4 linked regions of the Homo sapiens genome follow. The protein of the gene in region 3 interacts with the protein of the main gene of each other region in a pairwise test. Each region holds a gene or a part of one and is shown on either strand. Other genes may lie near its edges.

The links.
Region 1: the proteins of AP1M1 (region 3) and TRIM41 interact in binary tests that used the Homo sapiens proteins (3 or more experiments, as listed by UniProt).
Region 2: the proteins of AP1M1 (region 3) and MEA1 interact in binary tests that used the Homo sapiens proteins (3 or more experiments, as listed by UniProt).
Region 4: the proteins of AP1M1 (region 3) and FKBP7 interact in binary tests that used the Homo sapiens proteins (3 or more experiments, as listed by UniProt).

What each region holds. Positions count from the first base shown.
Region 1 is NC_000005.10:181,218,309-181,226,286, reverse strand, and holds the start of TRIM41 (E3 ubiquitin-protein ligase TRIM41), read right to left. Parts: upstream 3,007-7,978; 5' UTR 2,288-3,006; coding exon 1,475-2,287; intron 1-1,474.
Region 2 is NC_000006.12:43,010,937-43,018,595, forward strand, and holds MEA1 (male-enhanced antigen 1), read right to left. Parts: upstream 3,011-7,659; 5' UTR 2,878-3,010; coding exon 2,850-2,877; intron 2,454-2,849; coding exon 2,179-2,453; intron 2,093-2,178; coding exon 1,990-2,092; intron 1,686-1,989; coding exon 1,534-1,685; 3' UTR 351-1,533; coding exon of another isoform or gene 213-350; 3' UTR 207-212; downstream 1-206. Other genes in the region: PPP2R5D (serine/threonine-protein phosphatase 2A 56 kDa regulatory subunit delta isoform), read left to right, coding at 1-61, 213-350; KLHDC3 (kelch domain-containing protein 3), read left to right, coding at 6,257-6,410, 6,583-6,759, 6,917-7,032, 7,209-7,280, 7,407-7,620. UniProt on the Homo sapiens protein: May play an important role in spermatogenesis and/or testis development.
Region 3 is NC_000019.10:16,221,907-16,228,931, forward strand, and holds part of AP1M1 (AP-1 complex subunit mu-1), read left to right. Parts: intron 1-4,514; coding exon 4,515-4,641; intron 4,642-5,641; coding exon 5,642-5,784; intron 5,785-6,230; coding exon 6,231-6,302; intron 6,303-6,863; coding exon 6,864-7,022; intron 7,023-7,025. UniProt on the Homo sapiens protein: Subunit of clathrin-associated adaptor protein complex 1 that plays a role in protein sorting in the trans-Golgi network (TGN) and endosomes.
Region 4 is NC_000002.12:178,463,162-178,468,623, forward strand, and holds the end of FKBP7 (peptidyl-prolyl cis-trans isomerase FKBP7 isoform a precursor), read right to left. Parts: intron 2,771-5,462; coding exon 2,609-2,770; 3' UTR 503-2,608; downstream 1-502. UniProt on the Homo sapiens protein: PPIases accelerate the folding of proteins during protein synthesis.

The sequences.
Region 1 (7,978 bases), on a different chromosome or scaffold from region 3:
CTAAAAATACAAAAATCAGCCAGCTGTGGTGGCGAGTGCCTGTAATCCCAGATACTCAGGAGGCTGAAGCAGGAGAATCACTTGAACCCGGGAGGTGAAGGCTGCAGTGAGCCGAGATCATGCTACTGCACTTCAGCCTGGGCAATAGAGTGAGACTCCGTCTCAAAAAATTAAAAAAAAAAAAGGCCACTCTGTAAAAGAAATTGTTACTTGTGATGAGGTAATGTAGGTATGTCTAGCTGTACCACTCAGAGCTGAGAAACCCTAGACACATTACTCTAAAATTGGGGTAACGAAAATAATACCTAAATGAAGTTATAGCAGGAATCAGGAGAAGGTCTGAAAACATGAGTTATAAAACAAAAAAAGCTCTGTGCAGACCACACAGAGGCTACCCCCTCCTCCTCCTGGTCCCACTGCTTCAAACCCATCCAGGCCTTCACTAAGTAGTGCTATTTGTGCTGGCTGCCTTGCAAACAAATCTCCTTTACCTATGTCCAAAGAAGAGTCAAAATGAGAAGTAGGGGCAAGGTATTTGTCAAACTAGAATCAGACTCCAAGAAAGTCACATCAGAAAAGTCAAACAACAGACATCCAAATGGTGGTGGCGTTGTTAGTATACACCAGGGGAAGGGACAGTAAATAACTAAGTCAATTATTACTGAAGCTCTGTGGCCCTCTGTATGGTACTTAAAGCCTCTCTGACTTTGTTTCCCAATCTATAAAATGGGAATGGAAAACATATCAAACTCAGTGTTGTCTGGGTTTTAACGAGACAGTCCATGAAAAGTGCCTAGTACAGTGCCTGGTATACATATAAATGTCCAGTGAATATTAACTATCAATCCTGGACAAATTAAAGTCCAAAGACACTCACAGACTTAATCAAGATTTGACAATGCAACTTGCAGAGCCAGGTCTTCTGACTGAAAAGCTCCTGCTTTCTAGTCAGTGCATAAGAATGACACAGAGCCAACCAAAGTCCTTGAAGACAGAACCAAGCCATATCGTGGTAGGTGGGGAACCCACTGGGAGGCAAGTGCAGAGCATTTGGGTCTGACACTGACACTAGCAGTTATCTCTGTGTTCCTGCTTCTGAGCCTTTTCTTGTCCTTTGAAGCCCCCAGTTCTTTCCATCTCTAGGTGTCTCCGTCAAGGACAGACTTAAGACTCACCCGAAAGAAAACGAGACTTCTGGTAAAGCCCTAGAGACCTGATCTGGCATCACCGGCTTTGCTCTATTTGCTTTGAGGAAGCCATCCTTCCCTGGTCGTCTTCACTGCATCTGCTCTGTGTACAGAATCCTTCTCATTCTAATCCACCTTGGTGGCAGTAAGTGCTTAGATAAGCAAACTTGGCTCACCAATACCATGAGGTTCTTTGGTGGGTGAAGAGATGTTTCCTTTTCCCAGGTCCCCTTACTTCCTCTCCATCCCCCCACTAAACTCCCATCTTCTCTCTGTACTTCTCTCACCTTGTACTCCTGCACCACCTCCTCCAATGGCACCACGCTGTGCTGTTTGTGGCTCCTGGATTCTCGGCACACCACACAGATGGCCTCTTCGTCTACCTCGCAGAAGAGCTTCAGGGCTTCTTGGTGTTTGGGACAGATGCCCTGATCGGTCACGCGGCTCCCTCGACCAGGGGTTGGGTGCATCTGCCGAATCACCTGGACCATATTGGCCAGCTGCAGGTTGGGGCGGAAGCTCCGCCGAGGAAAGCTCTTTCGGCACTGAGGGCATGTGAAGCACCTCCGAGGGGCTGGAGGCGGGGGCAGTGGGGTGACGGGGTCTAGATCCTCTTCCTCAACCTCCTCCAGCACTTCCTCCTCGTCCTCCTCATCCTCCCCCCTCAGGTCCTCCTCCTCCATGTCCCCCAAGTAGTAGTCCAGGTCTTCCTCCTCGTCCTCCTCCTCCCACACATAGTCCATGTTGTCCCAGCTGGACCTGCTCATGCCACTGGTCCAGAACACACCCTCTTCTTCCTCCTCGACCTCCTCCTCCATGTCACCCTCGTAGTCTTCATCCCGCATGGGGGTGTCCCACCCCGCGCCAGCCCCCACAGCCTCCACTTCCTCCTCCTCTCCGTCCTCCTCCTCCTCCTCCCGATCTAACTCATCTCTGTCCTCCTCATCCTCCCCACCCCACAACTGGGTTACACAAACTCGGCAGAAGTTGTGCCCGCAGCCGATGGACACGGGGTCCGTGAAGTAATCGAGGCAGATGGCGCACACCGCCTCCTCCTGAAGGGTCTGCACAGGGTTGGGTGTCATGGCAACGGCAGCCATCTTAGTGTCCAGCCAGCCAGTGTAGAGGTTCGGTGGGGGGGCGAGGGGCGGGGGTCTTCCCTACCGACGCCCTGGCGACCCGGCTCCACCCCCAGCCCTGCCCCTCCACACCTCGCCCCAAGAGCAGCCAGAGAGATGTCCTGCCGACAACCCACCCCAACACAGTGTTCCCTACTCCCAAACGACAACCGTGTCTCTACGAGGGGAGGGGACAGTGCTGGGCGCCACCGCCAAGTCCCTCAGGTGGCTCTGAGTACAAGTCTGCCCCAATGCTCCCTTGGACTCCTCATAAACCCCCGCCCCTCCTCACTTCCTGGCCCCGCCCCTAGCTTCCGGCCTCCTTCCCAACACTTCCGGCGTCTACACACCACCTAAGCTCGCGACTTCCCTCCGCTGTCCTGCTACTCCCCCTTTTTCCCCGCGGGGCCCCAGGGCGACAGGAAATGGCGAGGAGACGCTCTAGTCCGCACTAGAGAACAGGGCGGGAGGGCTAGGACGGTGGAGGCCCGCGTCTCTGTGGTAAGAGGCCGCGGGGAACGCAGAAAGAACAGAGGAACCGCCTACCCCCATCCCCCGCCGCTGGGGAGAAACTTCGGGGGGTAGGGGGAGCGCCTGGCGGCCGTCTGCTTTCGGTGCTATCACCGCATCGGCCAGACGCCATCCTACCCTCCCGGCACAGCCGACTGCAGCCGGTACTCCCCACAGCCGATGCCGGAAGCGAGGGGGTGGGTCCGCGGCGCGCCCTGAAGTACTTCCGGCCCTTCTAGGCAGACGACTTCGTTGTGGAGGACTCAGAGGGTCGTCCGGGTCGGACCGGGGGCGGGGCCTGAGAAAGCGCTTCGCGGGTTAGGGCAGCAGACGCCCCACCCTTCCCCAACTGTAGTCGGCGTTTCGCATCCGAGGTAGAAACTGCCAACCGGACACTGTCTCATGGTTTAGATGAACTTCCCTAACTGCCCAGCAGTGAAGAAGTGGTGACGAATCATTACATCTACATTCTCACAGCATCTCTGCAAAAATAGATGCTTTGTGCGGTAGAAATAATACTTGATGCTTAAATAGCTCTTTAAATTTTATTTTTATAGAGATTTGATGTCGATACATAAATAAATAAATGTTGTTTGATGCGAGAAAAATGACGGGGCCATGATTTATGTACAGAATCTCCAGTGAGTGCCAGACACAGCGTGACGCCAGGGCTGGGCCTGCAGAACTTACCCTGCTCTCAAGGCGGCTCGCGGGAAAACTCCAGATGGACGTCGCGCTTCCTAGGGGGGTGGTCAGGCCTCTGAGTATGTCAGATCAAACGCGCCAAAAACCACGAACCCTCGTGGGTGAACTATGCTAGGCCATTACAGGACCTGCGGACTCGGCTGCGGTGGACAAGTCCGGCTCCAGAACCTGGACACCGCTCAGCCGGCCGCGGCAGGGGTCCCCGGGCCTGTCCTACAAGGGCGCTTGCCTAGAGCTATCCCGGCCGTCTCAGCCGTGTGTGTCTTCAGGACGATGCCGGCAGGAAAGTAGCCAAGGTGGTTTCCGTAGTGTAGTGGTTATCACGTTCGCCTCACACGCGAAAGGTCCCCGGTTCGAAACCGGGCGGAAACACGTTTTGGTCTGTTCGGGAGATTCTCTCCCGAGGCCGGCCTTACGTGGCAGGAAGGACATGTGTGTCCCTGCGCTTCGGAGGAACACGGACTGGGGCAAAACTGAAGGAGAGCACTACTCAAGTAAATTCAGGTCTCGCCCCTCACCTAATCTCTTGCTCTTCCCTTCTGAAGCCTATGCAGCCATCACATGTACAGGAATCCGTAGATTTCAGATCCTCGGCTCTAGTGCCTAGAACAGAGCCAGGCGCAGGCGCTTCTTAGTATTTGCACAGTGGAAACGTGCTTACACCTCTGAGGGTAACCTCCATCTTCAGAGACAAAGTTAGAATACAGACATGGCCGCCCGGCTAGCTCAGTCGGTAGAGCATGAGACTCTTAATCTCAGGGTCGTGGGTTCGAGCCCCACGTTGGGCGTAATTTCGCTTTTTGGAAAGGTTAAGGCAAGTTGTGTTACCTAAGTGCACAAATGGTATTCTCTGTACCAAGACCTAGTGGGTAGCAGATTCACCAACAGTGGGTGTTAGAACTTGGACTAACCTGGTGTTCTCCGATCCGTGTGTGGAAGGCCCCGAGCAGAATTCTCACAACGTTTGCACCCTCGCTAACTCTCAAAGAAAGAATGAGAGGCGGGTACCTGTGGACCAATTCCTGCAGGCCAGCACCGCGGGCTATCGTGCATGCATGACCCTTTGCTGTAGGCCACTCGCCCACGGGCAGCACATATTAGGCATTTTATGTTTACCAGACGGCCTGCCCCCGTCTTGCTGTGAGACTTGCTGTGCTGGAGGGAACAATGTGGTTTATCGAAACTGGGGTGAGACCGCAGGACGACCCCAGGCGTTCGTGAGCGTCAAAACCTATCTGATTCACTCCCACTTTACTGGGAGATTTAGTGGTTAGGCTTCCGCCTTTGTCTCGCTACGACCTGCTTTCGACTCCCTGTCAAGAAAGATGCTTTGTGTCATATGAGACACTTGTCTTCCGTATATTCTTTTTTATGCTCTTGACTTTAAGAGTCTATTTTTGTGAGATGTTGCCCCACAAATACCAGCCTCCACGTTTCCCCCATACATAAATAGAGATAAAAACGGGCCATGCGCCGCGGTGGCTTATGCCTGTAATCCCAATACTTTGGGTAAGCCAAGGCGGGAGGATCGCTTGAGCCCAGGATGGCCTCGAAATTAGTCCTGCAAATATAGGCCTTTTTTCTTTTTTTCTTCTCTTTCTTTCTTTCTTTTTTTTTTTTTTTTTTTAAGATGGAGTCTTGCTCTGTTTCCAGGCTGAAGTGCAGTGGCACCACCTCGGCTCACTACGACCTCCGCCTCCCGGGTTCAAGTGATTCCCCTGCCTCAGCCTCCCGAATAGCTGAGACTACAGGCGCGCCACCACGCCCGGCTAATTTTTTGTATTTAGTAGAAACGGGGTTTCACCATGTTGGCAGGACGGTCTCGATCTCCTGACCTCGTGATCCTCCTGCCTCAGCCTCCCAAAGTGCTGGGATGACAGGCGTGAGCCACCGCGCCTGGCCCCGTTTTGTATTTTTAAGCTGTCGAAGTCTCCTCCGCATACGCACCACACCACGAGAGAAGTCTGTTGATCATAGAAAGCTGGCTTAATCTCGCTGAGCAAAAGATAGCATCGTCTTCTGTCTCAGACGTAAATCAAAGCGGGGACTTATGAGGGCTATATAGTCTGTGAGGGCGGTCTGGGCAGAAGTTGGTCAACGTTTGTAAATAGGCAGAGTCGCTAGTACAATCCTAGCACATGAGTTACTGGTGTTCAAAGCTGGTGTTCAAAGAGTTTTAAGTTTGACATTTCGTCTTGCACAAATTATTTCGGATTCTTTTGCAGACTGTGATTTCAGGGTTATTTTTTACCACCTTCACTGGGACTGGAAAACATTCTTAAAGGATTCTGGCTTTTTCATTAAAGTGGAGATGAAGTGGACAGGCTTCTCTTCTTTGTCCTCTAGCAAGCCAAGGGAACGCCCGCTGGAGCTTTTTGCTACAATTCCTGCTTTCTCTCCTCTCCACCCCTTCCACCCGTCGCCGCTCTGGCCAGGTCAGGTTTGGGATGCCCCTCCAGGCAAGTGACCCAAGCTGCTCCGGGCACAAAGGCGGCAAGCGTTCAACAGTCGGAGAAGCACGACACACACATGAACCTGGTGGGATCTTTGGCCTCCTCCCAAACCCTGTGGTGATGGGGCCTGGGGAGACTGAGGGACTCACTCTGATTTATATTTCAGGGGGTTCCTTCAGGAGTGATGCAAACAGGGAGTATGAGGGGGAGTAAGACTGTCGGAGACAGGGGCTGGAAGGACACAGGCCTGGTCCATACAGGAGGCGGCCGGCGCCGGGTGAGGCGGCAGCCAGAGGGAGACGCAGGTGAAGGAGCGGGATGCAAGGCTTGCAGCGGCGATAGATTTGGGTAGTTCCACAACCTAGATCACAGGCTGAGGATGCGGGAGGGGAGGGAAGAAAAAAACAATGACTTAGGTCTCGAACGGTTGGGCGTTAGATGCTGTGAGATACCTGGAAAAACTGCCCAAGACACGCGTGGATCTGAAGCTTGGGAGAACAGTTCTTGCTGGAACCAGAGACGGAGCTAAGGTGTGGGTCCTGCTGCCAGCCGACGTGACGCTCCAGGGTCAGCCTTGGGCGCTCGGAGGCGGAGACGGGATGGGAGAAAAGCCTGCAGCGAAGCGCCCACCCAGGCCTAGGGTGCCGCACAGTGCAAAGGAGATTGGCAGCGTCCAGTTCAGCACATGGTCTCGTAAGAGAAGGCGTCCATGGATTGGGCCACCTGGAGGCCCGTGGTGACCTTGACCAGAGAATCAGACGCACACAAGAAGGGCTCCCGCCCTGCGCCGAAAGGAGCGGGCCTTCGGGGTCACAGAGGCAGCAAGGATCCCTGATCAGCAGGACTGCGCCTCGCTTCCAAGCAATCCAGGTATTCGGAAATTAGGCGTCGGCGGCGGAAAAACATTTCACAATATTAAGCAATCGCTACTACTTTTAAATTTACATATATGCAGATCTCCATATGACAGGCGTTAAGCGTATTCCAACTCTACATACGTACATACCTTGGATGCTAGGATTGGCGAGTTTTATTTTTATAAAAATACTTAAAATTTTTCATTGAACTTTTAAAATGTAAAAAAAATTTCAGATTTATCTTTAAAAACCGACTTAAAATTTTGATATTCATTAATTTATATTTTGCCGTTTAGTTTAATACTTATGCATAATTCATAGAAATAAATTTTTGAAAGGACATAAGAATAATTTCACTTTTTGATTTTTATGTTTACTTTAATTTACATTTTAACAAAATATATTTAAATATCGTGTGCTTTAAATGCATTTTGCATTTTTTGAATCCTCTCTGTCATTACTGTCCGTAGAGCACAAATCATGTGAAAATTGAAACCTCTGGCTGTCTTCCCTGGAAGAAAAGGAACCACTAGGGAAGCGTATCCAGTCTTAAGCCTTGGAAGGTACATTTGCCTTTCCTCCCGCGATGCTCGCTAGTTTTTTGTTTTGTTTTTATTTATTATTATTATTCGAGACGGAGTCTCGCTGTGTCGCCCAGGCTGGAGTGCAGTGGCGCGATCTCGGCTCACTGCAAGCTCCGCATGCCGGGTTCACGCCATTCTCCTGCCTCAGCCTCCCGAGTGGACTACAGGCGGCCGCCACCACGCCCGGATAATTTTTTTGTATTTTTAGTAGAGACGGGGGTTTCACCATTTTAGCCAGGATGGTCTCGATCTCCTGACCTCGTGATCCGCCAGCCTCGGCCTCCCAAAGTGCTGGGATTACAGGCGTGAACCACCGCGCCCGGCCTTGTTTTGCTTTTAATTGCTGGAAGTGACTGGGGTACCCTTAGAGGTCACGCTTTACAGTTTGACAAACGGCATTACGCAGGGCCACAAGGAGACTGGTGTTCTGGGGAAGAATGGATCTAAGGGCCATGACTCCATGGGTGAAGCCGACACCTGGATGTTGACTATAACACTTATAAAAGTCATAGAGTAACCTCTCCGCATCTGTTTCCGTAGTGTAGTGGTTATCACGTTCGCCTA
Region 2 (7,659 bases), on a different chromosome or scaffold from region 3:
GACCCCCACAGCTGAGGACATCCAGCTTCTGAAGAGGACTGTGGAGACTGAGGCTGTTCAGGTGGGAGGGCAATGTAGGGGGATGGAGCAGAAATAATAGCTCTGGAAGGGAGAGGAGACAGAAACAGCAGAGCCAAAGAATAAGGGGACGGAACAATAGAATTCACTGGGAATTGGTCACCATTCCTCACCTTGTCCCTATTCACACACAGATGCTAAAAGACATCAAGAAGGAGAAAGTGCTGCTGCGGAGGAAGTCGGAGCTGCCCCAGGACGTGTACACCATCAAGGCACTGGAGGCGCACAAGCGGGCGGAAGAGTTCCTAACTGCCAGCCAGGAGGCTCTCTGACCCCTCACGTTCCTACCACAGGGCCACAGCCCACACAGCCCTGGGACACTGCCCTGGCCCTCCATACTCTGCTCCCTACTGGCTGTCTTGGGGGAAGGCAGCGCCTCTCTAGCTACTCAAGGGAGGGGGATGTGGGCACTTGAAGCAGGGACACCCACAGAATGGTCCCTCTTCTCCCCAAAAGGTGTTCATGCCTCCCTGTGGCTAGTACAGGCTGAGCACTAAGATGCTTAGTGCTCAGACAACCTGGGGATGCCTGTCCCCTACCTGCTCCTCACCCACAGCTACCTGAGGCTGCTCTGAGAAGTACACACAGGAATACATACGCTCCTCTATTCTTCCCTTCATCCTCATTTGAACGCCAGGTATCTCCCCTCCTCTCTCTCCCCTGCAGAGGCATGTAGGGAACAGCAGGAGATTATTCTCACCAAAGTTATGTCAAGCCCCATTGGTCCCAGAGTAGCTGAAGGGAAGCCAACCCCCCTGCAGCACAAATAGGCCCCCCAGTCCCAGCCGTGTGCTGGCAGATAGGGTTGTATTATTTCTTCTTACCCCATGCCTGACCAAGGGAGGTCAAAAGGAGAAAAGTATAGGCTGTGGACAATAACTGATGAATATAGGGCCCAGATGGACCAAGTGGGGCCGGGGAGGGATGAATAAACACCCTACCCCGTGCCCTGTCTTTGGTGAGCAGCAGCCCTGGGGTCACAGACATGGAAGGGACCACCCTGGGGCTGACTGCTTTTCTGTGCTGTTGGTTCCCAAAACTAGAAAGAAGGAAGCAGGGAGCGGTGCCCCAAGCATGGCTCCTGCCAACACCTATTTATTTCCTTGTTTGTGCTATGCTGGGCAGGCCTTCTCTTGTCCCTTATAGGTACCTTGGAGGGGCCAGGGGCTGAGGAAGGCCGGACCCAGGTTCCAGGGGCGCAGGCAGTGCGGCTTTTGGCTGTGTACATAGGGTGCTTTATTCTCCACAGAGTGATACATGCTAAGGTGGGTTGGGCTTGGACCGATGTCCCCATATGTACAGAACTGAATAAAGTGGGTCTCTGAGAAGTCTGATGTGCCTTGATGTGGAAAGGGAGACGGGGAAGATGGAAATGGACATTACAACCAGGGATGTGTTCAGTCCTGTGCTGGTTCTGGCCTGGAATGTAGGAATATAAGGCAGCTCTCACTGTGGTCACTTCCAGGCAGGGGATGCCTGCCGGGCTTGGAGGGCTTTCTGTACCACATCTTCCCACTGGGCATCCGATATCTCCCGAGCCCAGGCAGGAACCCCTGGCGCAGGCAGGCTTACTCCAGCCATTGTCCTTTTCACCAGCTCTACATGTTCTGAAATCAGAGCCAGAGGCCATTCAGGCATAGAAATAATGGGACCAGCTCCCCTCCCCAATCCCCGAATCAACCCAGAGCCCTTGGGCTGCTAGGGTCACCAAATCCACCTTGTTACTTTAAGGCAAGCCTGCCCATCCCCAAAGCTAGCAAAAGAGCATTTCACTTGGACTCTGAAGTCTACAAAATCTTAGTTTACAAACTATCTTTTTAGGATAGGGTCTTCCTCTGAAACTTCCTTCTACTGACTCATGCCAGTTCATTTCCTTAGTAATTATTCCAGAATGAAAGAATGATCTTTTACCTGGGTCCATGGGAATAGAGCTGTGGTTGTTCAACGCTGTAGCTCCCTCCTCATCTTCATCTTCACTCTCTAATGGTGGGTCTGGCAAATGAAGCCCCAGGGCCTGCAGAGCCACAGAAGACCGTTTGGGTCTAGGCTTTCAGGGAGCCCAGCTTCACCTGTTCAGGAACCATCCCTCCTCCACCCTACCTGGATTCGATCCTGGATGTCAGCAACTACATCTCCATCCCCCACTGGTGCCAGTTCCACCTCCTCTTGTTCAGGATCTTGGTTCAGGGGCTGGTAGGAGTAGCCAGCTGGGCCCGACCCCGTTTCCTCCTGCTCTTCCTCAGGCTCCTCACTGCTCCAATCCCCAGTGCCTTCTGAAGGGCCCTGATGTCCCAGTTCCTCAGTCTGATTGGGGAAGATACGCTCAGGGCCCATGGTGTCTCCTCCTAGAACTACTGTTGCCATCCGGGCAGGGGCTGCAAGAACAGGGAGGCGGTAGGACAGGGATCGGATGAAACCAGGCCCATCTTCATCCTCTCATCATCTCCTTGTAGTCTCCTGCGTGCAAAAAACCAGCTCCTCCCCGAGGCTCCTGCATCCTCCACCCCTCCGCCCCAATTCCAGCCTCTCGTTCCTCCCCCTCCTAAGTCGGGGTTCTTATCTTGAACCAGGCCCCACCAACTTGCTCCGCCACTTCCTAGTTAAACGCCCAACCGGAGGCCCTGCCACCTCCTAAAAGACACCCCTTCCAGAACCCCGGCTCCCCGCGCCACGCCTCCCCCGCGACTTGGGAACTCTGGGTCATCAGACTCCCCTAAACAGGTCGGCGTACCCGCCCCCTTCTCCCCTCTCCTAGAGGACCCCCTCTGTACCGCCTGACAGATGCCTTTCAGGCCCCATGGGCTCCCCTCAAATGGCCCCAGCTGCAGCGTCCCCCACCCGCCCCCATCCGAATCCCGGCGCCGGTGTTCCCGCGCGCCTCACCCGCTCAGAGCCCGCGGCCTCCACTTCCGGCGGGGCAGGACGTGCAGAGGTGCCTAGTCCTCCAGCCCCGCCCCATATCCATGATTGACGCTGGCGAGGACGAGGAGTCCGCCCCTTGCCCCGCCTCCGTCATTCCCAGCCCAAAAAACAAAGGACTGCATTACCCAGTGGCCTCCTCGGTCTCGACACATATTTGCACATGCGCAGAATCTCTCCTACGCCCCTGCCCACTCCTCAGCCCTCTCGTCCCTCAGGAAACGTATGGACTACAAGTCCCGAAATGCCTCCGGCACTTAGCTACGACTGCACGTGCGCGCACAGCTGCCCGCCGGAAGAACCGAGCTTGGCTGTGTTTATCTCGTTGGGGACTAAGGCGTCGGTTGGCGCGCAACGGGTTCTAGGCTGCAGGCAGCTCGAGGACCCGCGGCCCCGCCCCGGCTCGGCCTGGCAGGTAGCCTGGGATGGGTAGAAGGGCAAGGGAGAATTAGGGGGCTTAGGACGTGCTGTCTGGAGCTGGAGTGGCGGGGGAGGGGCCTGAGAGTGATGAGGTGGGGGTGGGGAGGGAGCTAGGGGGATGATGGGAAAGGAGAGTGTTAATGGGGAAAGCAGGGCTAGGGGAGGATGGCGAGGAGATGGGTAGGAGAGACCTGGTGTCTGGAGGAAGCAATGAAGGAAATGGGAAGGAAGACTGGGCCATGAAAACAGGGAAGCTGAGCATAATGGAAGGGGAGGGGTGTCTGGCGTGGTGGGCTAGGGGAGGCCGGAATGTCTGGAAGAAGACAGGGATAGAGTCATATGCAGAGAGGGGTATCGTGGTCAGTGCATGCTAATTTTTCTTTCCTTAGTGGAGGTGGGAAAATGGAGGGCTGTTGGGTGGAGCTTGGAATGGTAGGAGAAGGAAAAATGAGAAAACTGCAAAGCTCTCACGAGATCAAGAAGGGCGAGAAATGGGGAATAAAAAATGCAAGAGACCAGGCGGGTAGATACATTAAGGGAATAGAAGAAGTTTGAAAATGCTTGGTGGTGATGGAGGACTGGGGAGACCCAGGGATAAGAGGAGCCCCTGAGCGCCTGGGGGCTTGTTCTCCTTGAATTTGAGTTGTTTATATGGCAGAGAAACTAAAATTTTTTTTCTCCACCTTTGGCTGGAATTGCTTATCTCCTCTCCTGTGCATATTTTACTTTACCTTGACATATCTGAAGGGAAGAATAGAGAATATAAGGGAGGATGGAAGACTTCCATTCTTAAGCCCATCGACCTCCTAACAGTCTCCACAAGCCCAGACCCAAGATATTTTGGAGAGCGGGAGTAATGAAGTGAGAGTAGCTTCCTGCTGGGGCTATTTCAGGATGGGTCCCATGGCTATTTAAAGCTTAGGGTGTGGAGTTGGGGGAGGTTGGGTGGGTGGGACTAGCAAGCCAGCTGAAAGCCATGTCTCTTTCCTGCAAGGGGCCTCCCTTATTTGAGCTGTTTTAGTGCCTGAGGTTTTGCCTGGCCCTTTCCTCTGCCAGGGCTTCTTAAACAGGGAGCAGATGATGATACACCCAAACTCAGGAGATGCTTGCCAGCAAAAGCATTGTCAGTTGCAAGGATTTGCCTGAAAAAACCTCAGATGTACCCAGGTGTACGTGCCACTAGGTTGACAGGTTGTGTTTAAGAGACCATGACCAGCTGGGCATGGTGGCTCACGCCTGTAATCCCAGCACTTCAGGAGACCGAGGACGGTGGATCACCTGAGGTCAGGAGTTTGAGACCAGCCTGGCCAACATAGTGAGACCCCATCTCTACTAAAAATACAAAAATTAGCTGGGCATGGTGGCAGGCGCCTGTAATCCCAGCTACTTGGGAGGCTGAGGCAGGAGAATCGCTTGAACCCGGGAGGGAGGCAGAGTTTGCAGTGAGCTGAGATTGCACCATTGCGCTCCAGCCTGGGGGCAAGAGCGAGACTTCATCTAAAAAAAAAAAAAAAAAAAAAGACCATGACTTCTCATGCTGGATCTTTCTCTTGTCCTGCCCAAGGGCATTTTTTGCCTCCCTTCCCCTTTTTTTTTGTTTTGAGACAGAGTCTCGCTCTGTCGCCAGACTGGAGTGCAGTGGTGTGATCTCGGCTCACTCCAACCTCCGCCACCCGAGTGCAAGCAATTCTCCTGCCTCAGCCTCCTGAGTAGCTGGGACTACAGGTGCGCGCCACCGTGCCCAGCTAATTTTTGTATTTTTAGTAGAGACGGGTTTCACCATGTTGGCCAGGATGGTCTCCGTCTCTTGATCTCGTGATCCACCTGCCTCGGCCTCTCAGGGTGCTGGGATTACAGGTGTGAGCCACTGTGCCCAGCCCCTTCCCCTTTGCATTGCACACTCCCACCTCTATCCGCCTTTCAGGAACCCAAGTTGTGGAAGAGCTTGTTCTCTCTTTTCTACTGGAAATGGCTTGTTCTCTACCACAGTAGCAGGGATGGGGAAGTGGCAGGAGGAGAAAACCCCTCCCTCTATCACCATCCCCCAAGCCTAAGCATACACATACCTTTCTGGCTTAAGTCCTGGCAGCATACCAGGCACAGCTGTCAAAGGAACTCCTTGTGCCTGTGGGGGGCCCTGGGTGACCCCAATGACAACAACTCAGCTTGACAGGAGCTCCCTGTGAGGGGCTAACCAACCGCGGTAACATGGAGGTCCCTGTCCTGGATCAGTCCCGCCCTATCTTGGGTAGGGGGATTGTTCCACTCTAAAAGCCTGAAAGCTTTTCTGCTTTGAGGCACTCATGCCAGCTTTCAATGGACTGTTTGAGGCTGGCTGGGCTATTAATAGCTGTGAGTATTTTGAGATCCCTTTCCCCACCTCAAAGAACACAGATTCTTAGAGAGGTGGCAGTAAGCAGAGCAGAGACAAGAGAATATACCGTTTGGGAAGGGGGCTTCAAGTTTGTGCCAAGCCAGGGACAGAGTGGAGCCTCCACGAGTAGGTTGTGACCATGATATGCAGATTCTGAGCTGGCAATCAGGTGGGGGTGGCCCCACCCTTCACTGTTGGAGAACACTGGGCCCAGGCTGCTCCCTGACCTCGGCAGCTCCCTTGGGGCAGGGCCAGCCACCTGAGCTGAGACTAGTGCCCCTGTGGAGGGGTAGTGTGGGAGGGCCCCCAGGGTGACACTTGGAGGCAAAGGCTGGTTCTGGGCAGAGTCACAGTGAGCTGGGCAGAAGCCTCGCCTGAGGATCCCGTGGCCCCAATTTGTGTGCAGATAGCAGAGGCAGCAGGCCGTGCCGGGGGGGCATGTTGCTGTAACCAGTGGCCCAGGGGATGTTACGGTGGACAGTGCACCTGGAGGGCGGGCCCCGCAGGGTGAACCATGCTGCAGTGGCTGTCGGGCATCGGGTATACTCCTTCGGGGGTTACTGCTCTGGTGAAGACTATGAGACACTGCGTCAGATAGATGTGCACATTTTCAATGCAGGTAAGCCAATGCTGGGGCTGTCCCTGGGTCCCCACATCAGGGTGGGAACGGGCTGCTGATGAGGTTTGGCTGTGGTCTCTGGGACCAAGGGGATTGGGGACAAACATCTGGTTTGGGAAAAGTGGACAGCCTGGAGGGAGGTTCCCAGGGCTGAGCAGAGCTGTGCCCACAGTGTCCTTGCGTTGGACAAAGCTGCCCCCGGTGAAGTCTGCCATCCGTGGGCAAGCTCCTGTGGTACCCTACATGCGCTATGGACACTCAACCGTCCTCATCGACGACACAGTCCTCCTTTGGGGCGGGCGGAATGACACCGAAGGGGCCTGCAATGTGCTCTATGCCTTTGACGTCAGTGAGTATGGATCTCAGAGAGGCTATGTCCTTCCAGATGTTGCCTCAGTTGCCCAAGAAAGGTTTGGGTTGGGGGTCTTGGGGAGTAGAGTACCCCAGAGCTGAGGAGGGACTGTCATAGAGGGTGCTTAGTTGAGCCATTTTCTCATCTCCTTCAGATACGCACAAGTGGTTCACACCCCGAGTGTCAGGGACAGTTCCTGGGGCCCGGGATGGACATTCAGCCTGTGTCCTAGGCAAGATCATGTACATTTTTGGGGGCTACGAGCAGCAGGTAGGTCTGGGAATAAAATAAGAGGTTTAGGGTGGGACTGAGAAAGAGGGGAAGGGCAATTTAGGATGGTGAAATGGGAGGCTTTGGCTTGTTTGCAGGTTTTGAGGGGAGGGATGGAGGGTCAGAGAGTGACCATTGGCTCCCTCTTTTCTTCCTCCTTTTCTCTTCCTACTCAGGCGGACTGTTTTTCCAATGACATTCACAAGCTAGATACCAGCACCATGACATGGACTCTTATCTGTACAAAGGTCTGCTCTTTCTTTTTTTTCCCAAATCCCCACCCTCTGTTGAAGCAATGATAGGAAGCTCAGTCAGAGGAGATCCTCTTCCAGTCTTTGTGCTGACCCCTCCACCATCTCTCTGCCTCTGCCCAGGGCAGCCCTGCACGCTGGAGGGACTTCCACTCAGCCACAATGCTGGGAAGTCACATGTATGTCTTTGGGGGCCGTGCCGACCGCTTTGGGCCATTCCATTCCAACAATGAGATTTACTGCAACCGCATTCGAGTCTTTGACACCAGAACTGAGGCTTGGCTGGACTGTCCCCCGACTCCAGTGCTGCCTGAGGGGCGCCGGAGCCACTCGGCCTGTGAGTGTTTGTTACTTCCCTGTGGAGTTCCCTTCCTGC
Region 3 (7,025 bases):
AGCTCCCAACCTCAGGTGATCCACCTGCCTCAGCCTCCCAAAGTGCTGGGATTACAGGCATGAGCCACCGCACCCAGCCCTCAGATATGTTTTTGTCATTTTACTCTTCCTTCAGGACTCCAGTGACATGAAAGACCTTTGGTTATTATATCATGTGTCCCTGAGGCTGCTTATTTTATTCTATCTTTTCTTCTCTCTGTTAGATTGGATAATTTACATTGAACTGCCTTTAAGTTCACAGGTCCTTTGGCCCTTTCCTGTTTATCTCCATTCTGTTATTATTATTATTACTATTATTATTATTATTTTTTTTTTTTTTGAGATAGGTTCCCACTCTGTCATCCAGGCTGGAGAGCCATGGAGCAAGCATGGCTCACTGTAGCCCCAACCTCCTGGGCTCAAGCGATCCTTCTGCTTCAGCCTCCTGAGTAGCTGGGACTACAGGTGTGCACCACCAAGCCTGGCTAATTTTTAAAAAAAAATTTTTGTAGAGATGAGGGTCTCTCTGTGTTGCCCTGGCTGATCTAGAACTCCTGGGGCAAGTGATCTTCCCACCTCAGCCTCCCAAAGTGCTGGGATTACAGGCATGAGCCACTGTACCTGGCCTCCATTCTGCTATTAAGTCCATTGAGCAAGTTGTTTATTTCAGTTACTATATTTTTAAAAATTTTCCATTTGATTCTTCTCTTTTTGTTTGTTTTTGTTTTTGTTTTTGTTTTGAGACAGGGTCTTACTCTGTTGCCCAGGCTGGAGTATAGTGGTGCAGTTATAGCTCACTGCAGCCTCAACCTCGTGTGTTCAAGTGATCTTCCCATCTGAGTGTGCTGAGTAGCTGAGACCACAGGCACGCACCACCATGCCTGGCTAATTTTTTTTTATTTTTTATTTTGTAGAGACCAGGACTTGCTGTGTTGCCCAGGCTAGTCTCGAACTCCTGGTTGATTCTTCTTTATCATCTGTTTCTTTGCTGAGACTTTCTATTTTAACATTTGTTGCAAGCATTTGCAATTTTAAAAATAGCTGTTTAAAGTCTTCATCAGATAATCCCAACATCTGTGAAGTGTTGACAGTGGTTGATTGGGTTTTCCAGGCAAGTTGACATTTTCGTGGTTGTTTGTATGCTGAGTAATTTTGGATTGCATCCTGGACTTTTTGAGCATTATGTGGTGATACTCTAGGTCTTATTTAAGCTATATGGGAAATATTGATATTTTTGTTTTAGCCAACAGCCAATCTTACTTTCAGGCCACAAGTTCCAATCCCCAACCTGTAGGCCATGAGCATCACGTCAGTTTTTAAAGCCCCCGTGCCATTTCCTGGTCAGATCTCCTGGGCGTGCACTGCCCAGTGGTCATTCTGGGACCCGAGTGGTTAGTTCAGTTCTCAAACTCTTTCGTAAGTCAAACTATGGTATATGCACAGGATTCACAGATGCTCGATTCTAGAGAGTTCTGGAGACATAAACCACTTCATGGGGTGACTTTCCTGAGCTTCTGGCTCTGTGCTGTCTACCTGGTACTTTTCTGATTCCTTGCGGTTTACTGTTGTACACGTCTGCCATTGGGCCCACTTCCCAGCCCACATGGAGAGAGGACAGAGAGAGAAAAGGACAACGGTTGCCCCACCCCCTCGGAACAGTAGCTGGCACCACAGGGCCTGGGGCATGAGGAACAGGGGAGATGGGGGGCTTCTGTGTTTTCCAGGAGAGTCAGGAGTTCCTCTTCTGGCCCCAGAGCCAGGCCTGGAGGCTCTGCTGAGCTCTCGTGTGCTCTGTGGTGCACACTTCTGCTTCCAGATTGCTGCTGCACTTTCTCGTGGGGGGCGGTGGGAACACTCTGCATTCGTGGCTCTTCCCTGGTCCACCTGCTGCTGTCTTCAGTCTTCCGGCAGCTGCCAAGCCTCCTGCCCAGGTTTCAGAGCTGTAGTCAGTGGCAGGGGAAGGGGCGCCAGCCGACCTGCCTCACCAGCCGCTTGCTTTCTTTTGTGTTCACGCTGGCCTCATCCCTGCGGTGTGGGTGGACTGTATGGGCTCAGCCAATCCAGTCATGCAGGTCACTCAGGTCCCGTTTCTGACGGCCACTGGCAGTGCAGCATTGAGCACGCTTGCTCAGCCCCAGACGTGTGCACTTGGGTGTCTCCGTGACCTGGGCCAGGATTTCTGGAGGACTGAGGCTGCAGACATGGAATTGCCAAGGAGAGTGCTGCCCAGAAAGACTGTCTCGCGCACTCCGTGCAGACCTCTTCGCTTTCTTACTTTCCGGGACGGGACAGTGGCCTCGCTAACCACATTCCCCTCTCCCCTGGGGACTCTTGTCTGATTGTTTATTGAGCCGAAAACAGGGTCCATCTGGGTGCTGTGGGGTGCAAAGGCAAGTCCCAGGGGGCAGCTTAGAGAGAGTCGAGCAGGAAAGCGCTAGGGCTGCGGGGGTCCCCGCCACAGTGCGCTGCTGCATGTGGCTCCGCCCGGAAGGATCCCACTCCTCCAAACAGGTCAGCACAAGGGCAGCTGTCAGGATGCCACCTTCCTAAGTGGCTTGCAGAGCTGGTGGCTGGGTCAACATTTGCCTCCAGATGCGATCATCTGAGTGCAGCCTGGTACTTACACAGCCGGGCCCTGAGCAAGCATCCCTTCAGCACCCGCCCTGGGAAGGGCACCGGCTCTGCGTGGCTGGTCACACCTCAGCTGAGAAGGTTCTGATTGCTGCCCGCAGGGCCGAGATCAGCCTCGTGGGCTGGGCAGCTTTTCAGCTCCACTCCCTGGGCCTGCTCTCGCGGCATTCACGACCTCATGTGTTCAGTTACAGCTGGCTGCCAGGGCCAGTCCCAACTCCCTGAGGGGGAGGCAGCACCCAAGGGGAATTAGGGGCCGTCACAGTGGAGTGGAGGGCCCTCCGAGAAAGAGGCAGGCAAAATCCCAATGCTCGGGCTCCTGGAGCCCCGGCCAGTGAGGGTCCCGAGCTCCTGAGCCTCCGCTTGCCCACTGAGCACCTCCTGCCACACACGCTGTTTCTGGTGCTGGACACGGCAGCGCGCAGCCCCACGTGGCTTCCCCCAGCAGGGAGAGAGAGAGAGAGACAAGCAGGCAGACGCAGGGAAGCTGTTGTGCACCATGGGATCAGGGAGCCGCTTGCGAGATGAGGACAGGACAGCACGAGGAGGTGAGGCTGGGGAAGGTGACAGAACCGGAGCCCTTGGGGCCATGTCCGGTTCCCTGCCCCTCCCAGGGCTGTCATTTGCTTGGCACCTCAGTTTTCCCAATTCCCTCAGAGGCGGCAAGCTGGTGAGGGGCTTTTGTTTGTCTACCCAGTGCTTTTTGGACATCATGCATAAGACTGCACAGACTCTCCTGCCACTCTGCAGACAGGAAATGCAGGCCCTGCACATGTTAGCCTGGCTGGAGCCAGCATCTGGGCCCAGGTATCCAAGTCGGTGGCCTTTGGCCCACTTGCTGGTGTGAGCATGGCCTCGTGCAGCATAGCAGTGTGCAGTGGTGGCCAGGGCTGCAGCCCCAGCGATTCTTCTGCCAGTCACTCTGTGCCCTCAGCACGGGGCCTCTGATCTGTGCCTGTTTCCTCACCTCTAAAATGGATGCAAGAAGAGATGCTCCAGCATCTTGGCTCACGCAGGACAGGCTAGGGGGTGCAGGACCGTCGCCCCGGTGTGGATTTTCAGTTGCACTTTCAGATGCATCTCGGCATGCGCAGTGGGTTACAGCCCCTCAGGTCATCTCCCCACAGTCCCTGCCCCAGAGGTTGTCGAGGCGTGTGTGGAGCAATGCCTGGCGCAGTGGAAATGCTGTCAGTGTTAGCCACTGTGACTGGATTTAAGTTGATTATTTTGGATCAAGTGTTATCACACTTCAGGGTGGCCCTGAGAAGCAAGAAGGGGTCAGGACTCAGGAAGCACCATCTCTCATAAGCCCTGGGGGGTGAGGGGCCAGTGGCCTCCCTGGGAGGCCAAGAGGAGAAACAGCTTTCAAGAAAAGCAAGTCTGGCCTGGTTCAAGAGACCCCAGCCCAGCCCAGCCCATCGGCTGAGCAGGGACCACAGGGTCCTGGCCCAGGTCCAGCCGAGCTCATGGACTCTCAAAGCTGACTCAGCGTGGGGACCAGCTGCCGGGCCGGCCCGGAGCATTCAGGGGGCTCCTGGGAGGGAGGGACTGGTACCTGATAGAGAACCCTCAGAGGGGGCTCCAGGCACGCATCATCAGGTCCCAGTGTGGCCTGAGGCCTAGAGGGCAGGACCCACAGTGTCCACCTCATGTCCACAGGGCCTCGGCATGAAGGCTGGAGGGGTGAGCCTGGGGACCCTCAGCCAGGCGTGGGTTGGTGTGGGTTAGGGGTAGACCTTAGCCACAGCTGGGACTCTCCCAGCTCAGGGGATGCCCAGGAGAGGGATGGGCTTGGAGGTGAGAAGGGCGTTGAGAGTGGGGTGGCCAGAGGGTCACATGATGTGGTAGGAGGCAGTGGCTGGTGAGTTGGGGACCTCCCCTCACGCCCACACCGCCACCCCCAGGTCAGCGCCAACGGCAATGTCCTGCGCAGCGAGATCGTGGGCTCCATCAAGATGCGAGTCTTCCTCTCGGGCATGCCCGAGCTGCGCCTGGGCCTCAACGACAAGGTCCTCTTTGACAACACGGGCCGTGAGTACCCTTGCCAAGGGCCCTGCCCATGAGGATGGCCTCACCAGGCACACACATTACAGCCTAGGGCAGGGTTGGGCCAGGCGGAGGAACGAGCTGGTTTCAAGCACTTGGTTGAGCAGCACTTCACACTGCTTGAGACAGCTGTGTAGAGTATTCATCCTTCCCTGGACATAGAAGGTGCAGGGGAGTGAAGATCCTCCAGTCCAGCTGGGAGGCCCCCGTCACCCGGCCTCACACGCCAGGTCCTGCACCCTGCCCTGCTCTGCCTGGGGCACTGGGGCCTAGGCTAAGGCCTTGCTCTCTCCCTCCCAGGCCAGGTTTCTCCCCTCACCTTGGGCCCTAGGTGTGGGCCGTGTGAAGGCCACGCATGGTGATTCTCGCTCCCGCCGCCTGGCCTCTAACACTTCCCACAGCAGGGCGGGGGCAGAGGGGCCCAGGGCCTGGTTTTGTGAACTGTGCCTCCCACTCAGCTGTCACAGGCCACTGGAAGAGGGTGCAGTGGCTGGGCATGCCCCCGTTCCTAGCCCGGTGAGGGCTTCTCGGGCATCAGTCTATCAGGGCAGCTCCCCGCCTGGGGCTGGGCAGGGCCCCACCCACATAGCCCTCAGTGAGGTGGCAAACCAAGGTAGGACCCAGGACCCCGTGGATGCCAGGGCCTGAGCCCTTGGGGAGCCCCGAGCCATCCCCCAGCCAAGTCCACTGATCAATCATTCAGTGAACGTGTCCTGAGCAGGTCCCCTGGCTGGGCCCTGGGATGGCCGCTGGGGACTCAGCATGAACCAGACCCACCAGCCCTGCCCCTGGGGACCCCAGGGGTGTGAGGAGTGATGGGGCAGTTGTCTTGGGACCCAGCCCCCTTGGTGTTTGTGGCCCAGGCTGCTCTCAGTGCGTGGACTGGGGGCCCTGCTCTGCCGGGGTGGGTTGCAGGTGGTAGGAGTACTGCTGAGATAGTGACCCGGAGGGCCCAGATCTGTCCTACCCTCACCCCTGACCCCAGGCGGCAAAAGCAAATCCGTGGAGCTGGAGGATGTGAAGTTCCACCAGTGTGTGCGGCTATCACGCTTCGAGAATGACCGCACCATCTCCTTCATCCCACCCGACGGCGAGTTCGAGCTCATGTCCTACCGTCTCAACACCCACGTGAGTGCGCCACCCTGGGGCTGGGCTGTCGGCAGACTCCTCCTCCCCTTCACCTCCAGGAGGTGAAGCCCAGGCAGGCGCCAGGGCCAGCCCCACCCCACGCTCCATGAGCTGCCTGGCTCTGCAGAGATGGAGTCTGAGGACTTGGGACTCCGAGCTTTCTGAGGGGCACAGACCCCTTTGGCCACCACCACCCCTTTCCCAGGCAGCCCCCAGAGCAGGCCCTGGTCATGTTTTCTGCATTTGCCCCAAGGCCTCCCCGGTAGCTCCCGGCTACCTCGGCCTGTCTGCCCTGGCCCTCCCTGACGCTGGCTGTACGCTCCCTGCAGGGCTCTGGGCCCACACCTGGGCAGATGGTCCCTTGCCCTGGGCCTTGGTTTCCCCTCTGAAATGGGCCTTTGTCAAACAAGGCCAGGTGTGAGCACCCTCTTTGCCCTCCTTGGCAGGTCAAGCCTTTGATATGGATCGAGTCGGTGATCGAGAAGCACTCCCACAGCCGCATCGAGTACATGATCAAGGTGCGTGGGCCGAGGCCACCCACTGAGGGCCTTCTGGTGTCTCTGGCCCGTCCCAGGAGCCTAACCGAGGGCTGGGGGTGCCGTAGGGCTGCCATCCGTGCACCCTCACTGTGGCCTCAGATGCAGGAGTGACCTGACACTGAGGGGACACCGCCTGGGGCCTGCTCCTAGATGGTGCCACTTGTGGGGAGGGGCCTGTAGCCAGGCATCCAGGACACTCCCAGAGGTGTTGCCCCCAGGTGGAGCACCTCTGCCCCTCAGCGACCCTGTCCAGCGCAGCCTGGCCCTGGGACATAGACATTGTCCTAGGAGGGCAGGGCAGAGGGAGGGATGAGGAGCCTTGGAAGCTGAGCAGACAGGAGGATGAAGATGAAACTCCTGAAATTAGGTCTTGGGAGAGTCTCGAGGGCAGGAGAAGGGGTGGGTAGTGCCTGGAGAAGTGGGGCCAGGGGCGGGGCTAGGGAGGATCCCCCGGGCCAGGCTGAGGGGCATGTGTCCTGGAGAGGCTGGCCAGCTCACCTTGGCCTCCATAACCCCGGGCCGCATTGGCCTGGCCTGCAGGCCAAAAGCCAGTTCAAGCGGCGGTCAACAGCCAACAACGTGGAGATCCACATTCCCGTGCCCAATGATGCCGACTCACCCAAGTTCAAGACGACGGTGGGGAGCGTTAAGTGGGTCCCCGAGAACAGCGAGATCGTGTGGTCCATCAAGTCCTTCCCGGTG
Region 4 (5,462 bases), on a different chromosome or scaffold from region 3:
TTAGAGCAGTCATCGGCCAACCTCCCCAATAGCACTTGGGTTTTCCTGTTGAGAGTGGGGACTGAGAGGACTAGCTGGATTTCCTAGGCCGACTAAGAATCCCTAAGCCTAGCTGGGAAGGTAACTACATCCATCTTTAAACATGGGGCTTGCAACTTAGCTCACACCCAACCAATCAGAGAGCTCACTAAAATGCTAATTAGGCAAAAACAGGAGGTAAAGAAATAGCCAATCATCTATTGCCTGAGAGCACAGCGGGAGGGACAAGGATCAGGATATAAATCCAGGCATTCCAGCCAGCAATGGCAACCCCCTTTGGGTCGCCTCCTTGTATGGGAGCTCTGTTTTCACTCTATTTCACTCTATTAAATCTTGCACCTGCAAAAAAAAAAAAAAAAAAAAATTCTAGAACTCAAAATGTAGTCACAGCACTCAATGCCACATATATGCATATGAAGGCATAAGGCAATCATGCAGATATATGAAATACTTGTACACTGTATTGTATGTAGAATGATTATAAATTTATTTTTAATTATGTAAATACAAGTTTTAGAATGAATCATCTTCCTATTCATGTGGCATTATCTGTCATTTTTTAAAAACAAGTTTAAAAGCACTTTGTATGATAATGGGACAAAAAAATTAGAATTACAAAGTTTAGATTATAGGGTGACTTCTTAATATGGATACAAAAAATTGAGACAGGTTCCAAACCAAAATAAAGAATATTGAGTTACTTAGTTTACTTCAACGGAGCAGGTTTTTTTGAGGGAAGGCGATGAAAGAGTAAATGATTAAGCATGTGAAAAAGTATTAGAAAATTGAGCATAGAAATGAAGAAATATTGGGAGGAAGGAAAAGATAGTACAGATTCTTGTTTTATAAGGTGTCAAATTATGTGCTAGCCATATGTATTATTTACTAATCTCATGGTTGTGTTACCCCTATGTATACTTTTGTTTGTTTTTGTATGTACTCATCTGAAAGCCCTCTATTTTTAAATAGAATTTTTGATAGTGTAAAGAAGTTAAAGGATGAACAATGGTTTGGAAAGAGCAAGTTTCAGAAGGTAGAAAAAACTTTACTTGTTTGGAACTCAATTATTTTGAACAGAGCTATTTACTGTCTGACCATACTTTCCTATATATGCAGTGTAGTAGTCCATTTTCACACTGCTATAAAGAACTGCCCCAGACTGGGTAATTTGTAAAGGAAAGAGGTTAAATTGACTCATGGTTCCCCATGGCTGGGGAGGCCTCAGGAAGCTTACAATCATGGTGGAAGGCGGGGAAGCAAGGACTTTCTTCACAAGGTGGCGGGTGGGAGAATGAATGCAAGAGGAACTACCAAACACTTATAAAACCATCAGATTGCATGAGAACAGCACGGGGAAAACCACCCCCATGATTCAGTTACCTCCACCTGGTCTCTCCATTGACATGTGGGGATTATGGAAATTATGGGGATTATAATTTCAAGATGAGATTTGGGTGTGGACACAAAGCCTGACCATACCATGCAGTATGCAAAATCTATGTTCCGATAGACATGTGCCCTTTCTTTGGTACCAACGTGATCTTCTACAGCATCTCTTACATACTATTCTCAAGTCATATGATATCATAACTTGACCATGACACAAAATTGCCATGGCACTGTATATCCTCCTTTGTTTGGCACATTTATCAAAATTTGACAGCATACCAATTTGTAATGATCATTCATCATTAGTGACAAGAATGATGGGAAATGAGGTGACATAAGGAAAGAGATAACTAGAGAAAGGGAACGAAAACTAAGAAATTTCATGGCATCAATTTAAAACTATCAAGACAAAAGCTTGGGGTGGCAGACATCTTATAAAGGTTTACAAGAGGGAAGAGGAGTTGCACATTTACAATAATGTCTGAAGGAATACAAAAGCCAGGCAGTACAGTCTTTATGCTTGCTATAAGAGGCAAAAAGTCTTTGGTTTGGTCAAATATTTTTAAACATTCCCCACTGGAAAATACCCAAGGCTAGAAGCTTACACCAAAAAGTTTAGAGACTGTGTTGCGTTCTTTGTGGAACAGAGATATACAACTATCTTCCTGCACATATACCAAAGGAAGACTCTTCAGTTCTAGGATTTTTATATCGTCTTCATAATGTTATAAAAATGTATAAACAAGTGAAATGCTAATTCCTGGGTCCTTAATGGATATTTTCAAAATATGAGGCACTTTAACTTTTAAACTATAAAAAAACTGGATATTAACATGCTGGTAAGGTTAAAGTTGGGAAAAGCTTGCAGTTTTTGACATACTATACATGTCCTCCTACATCCTGAAAGGGGAAAAAATGCCCACTGGGACCCAGAGGTCTGTTTCATGGTGCTACAATTCTTGTTTACAGAATAAAGCAGTAGGAAACACAGTCATACCATTCCTGCAAGTTAAGTTTGCAAAACAGCCTCACATTTATTATACCAAAATCAATGTATTGGGGAGATCAAAATATCTTCTCATAGGGGAAAAATAGCAAATACAACTTGGAGAAAAGTGACTTTGTTTTATACATAAAGTACAGTAAATAGCTAAAAAAAAAAAGTAGAAATACAAATATGCTATAGTTCATCGTGTTGGTATACATTGTATTCCTTGGGAGAAATGAAGCCATCACCATCATGGTCATTCTTCTTAAAAATATCTTCTAAAACTGCATCCTGATATGACTTGTCACGTGGCTTCTCATCTTTTTCAAATTCCCTTTGCAAGTAGAGGTTTATCTGGAAGGCCAAAATAACATTCCTTTAATTAAAAGGTATCACAGTGAATTTCCAGTAACTTTAAGGAATAGTTATAATAATGAAACTCATGTGCAAGATTACTTACAGTAAATGATACAACAGTATGAAAAGCTATTTGAGGTTTTATTTTTCTTATTCTTTGAAGCAATGTTTTGGAGAGAAACAGGTCTTCAAATTAGTTTTCCCTAAGATGATAGATGGTTAGTGGTACATACTCGAAGATTAATATTTAAACTGAATTTTGTTGAAACTAAATGCTTTCTAATAATCCATGCTGTTCCTATTATCAAAGGAAAATCACGCATGACTGCCATTAGTGAAAGAAACCCAATTGGCATTTCTATAATCTCTAAAACTAATGAATATGTTGTATAATCAATAAAACACAACCATGGGGTTTGAAATAAAATTTAGTATTTTAAGTTTTTCTATGCTTCTATAGCTCTCCTCCAAGTCTACATAACTATAATAATCTCTTTAATAATGTCAAATAAAGAATCCTGAAGTATTCACTAATTATATAAAATTTCTATATGCAAACACACATTAAAAGTATTGTCCAATATAGTAGCCACTAGCCACATGTGACTAATGAGCACTTGAAACATGGCTAGATCAAAATGAGATATGTTACTATAAATATAAAATATATAACAGATTTTGAAGACTTCAAAAAGTTATCTCATTGATAATTTTACATCGATCTCATATTGAAATGGCAATATTATAGATATATTGAGTGAAGATATAACATTAAAATTAATTTCACCTGTATCTTTTTACTTTTTAAGATGTGACTATAAAAATTTTAAAATTATATGTGTAACAATTGTATTTCCTTTGGAAAGCACTAATCCTTATAATAACTAAAGAAAGCAATGCACAATCATCTGGAGGTAATGTTCAGTAAGGCTGGCATTATAGAGGCAAGAGTATTTTTGAAAGCTAGAGTTTGAGAGGTTTTTAGCAATACATATCCCAGGGTCAACCCATTGCAAGTTGACTTTATTTTAGAGCAATCAGTGGACCTTAATGAAGGATACATCAACTGTTCTCAAATGGGACTTTGGTCCTACATGAGGCAGACACATTTTTTTCTTCCAGCCAAAGCTTAGCAATCCTATGTAGGGGTAAACAATTTTTAATACCTTCAAATATTTCTCAGTTTCTAAGTAAGTCAAATTATTTTTACATAACCAATATTGCTGATGCTTAAACTTGACTCCTTTTCCAGTAAACTACAGTACAGAGGTACAAAAAGACAGTGGGTAAGAACATGACCTTAATTTTGCTAGTAATGGGTTCCACACTATTTCCACTTTTTAATTTAATAAAATACTGTATTTCCCCCGTCCTTTCCGTCTTTATTAATATTAAAGAAAGTTTTTCTTTTTCTTTTTTAAATGTTCCTTCCTGTACACTGATGAAATAGTTTACTTAATCTTTCTGACAATGAATAAAGTTTTTTGTTTGTTTGTTTTTGTTTTTGTTTTTTTAGTTCGTGTTTCTACTTCAGGCTTTGTCTTGGATTTGCTGTGTGGTCTTCTGCAAATTAACCTCTCTGAACCTCAGTTTTGTCATCTGTAAAAGGAGATAAGTAAGTATCTATATTGTAGGATTGATATGAGGATTAGAATAATGATTATGGCCATCAATAAAAGACAGCTATTGTTATTCAAGTTAGTGAAAATCACTCTCATCCATCTGGCAATAAAGCAGCTGATATCACATAGACATCTGGGGAAATTGTAGATAAGTAGATTACTATTTTGGATTTTCTCTATTTTTATTTTCCAGAAAAGAACTTAAGATCATCTAATGTCTTACTGAGGAGTATTCATACTGCAGAACGTGGCTCTTGGTGTGCCTGTGATAATGAGTGGTCTGTGTGCATAGGCTGAGCTCTTGGGTACTATGCGAATTCATCTGCAGCTGCTATTCACTCTAAAAAAGGGTGATAAGGAGTCAATAGAGAAGTACACTTTGGGAACCATTTGCCACCCCGGTAACTGCCCTTCTTCTTAAGAACAGGACATGTTCCCTTCTCCTTCTTCCACTGTTGGCCAACCAAGATGCCTGAAGGGAAAGTCATTACTAATATCCTGGTGTAAGAAGTTGAACTGGGTGGGGAAAGGATTGGAGAGGGAGATGAAAAAGAAACAGAGAAAAAGACTTATTTTTATTACTTGAAATCAACCTAGTTAGCTTTTACTACTTACTTATGTGGTAGAGTTACACATTTTTAAATGTCTCCTAACTAGTTAAGAGGGGAGACAGCTGGTTTACTAATTTTAAGCAGGAGTATCGTCAGTGGGACTAAGTAAGACATTAGAATTCAATAAATAGTATTAGACTTGAAACATTCATGATTTTCTCTGAAAGAAGCAGTCTAGGCCCAAAGTTAAAAATATAGTAGTGGGCTGGGCATGATGGTTCACACCTGTAATCCCAGCACTTTGGGAGGCTGAAGAAGGAGAATCACTTGAGGCCAGGAGTTCAAGACTAGCCTGGGCAATGTAGTGAGACTCCATCTCTTAAAAAAAAAAAAAAAATTAGCTGGGTATGGTGGCATGCTGCGGGGATCGCTTGAGCCCAGGGGTTTAAGGGTGCAGTGAGCTATGATCACTTCACTGCACCCTGGCATGGGCAACAGAGAAAGACCCTGTCTCTA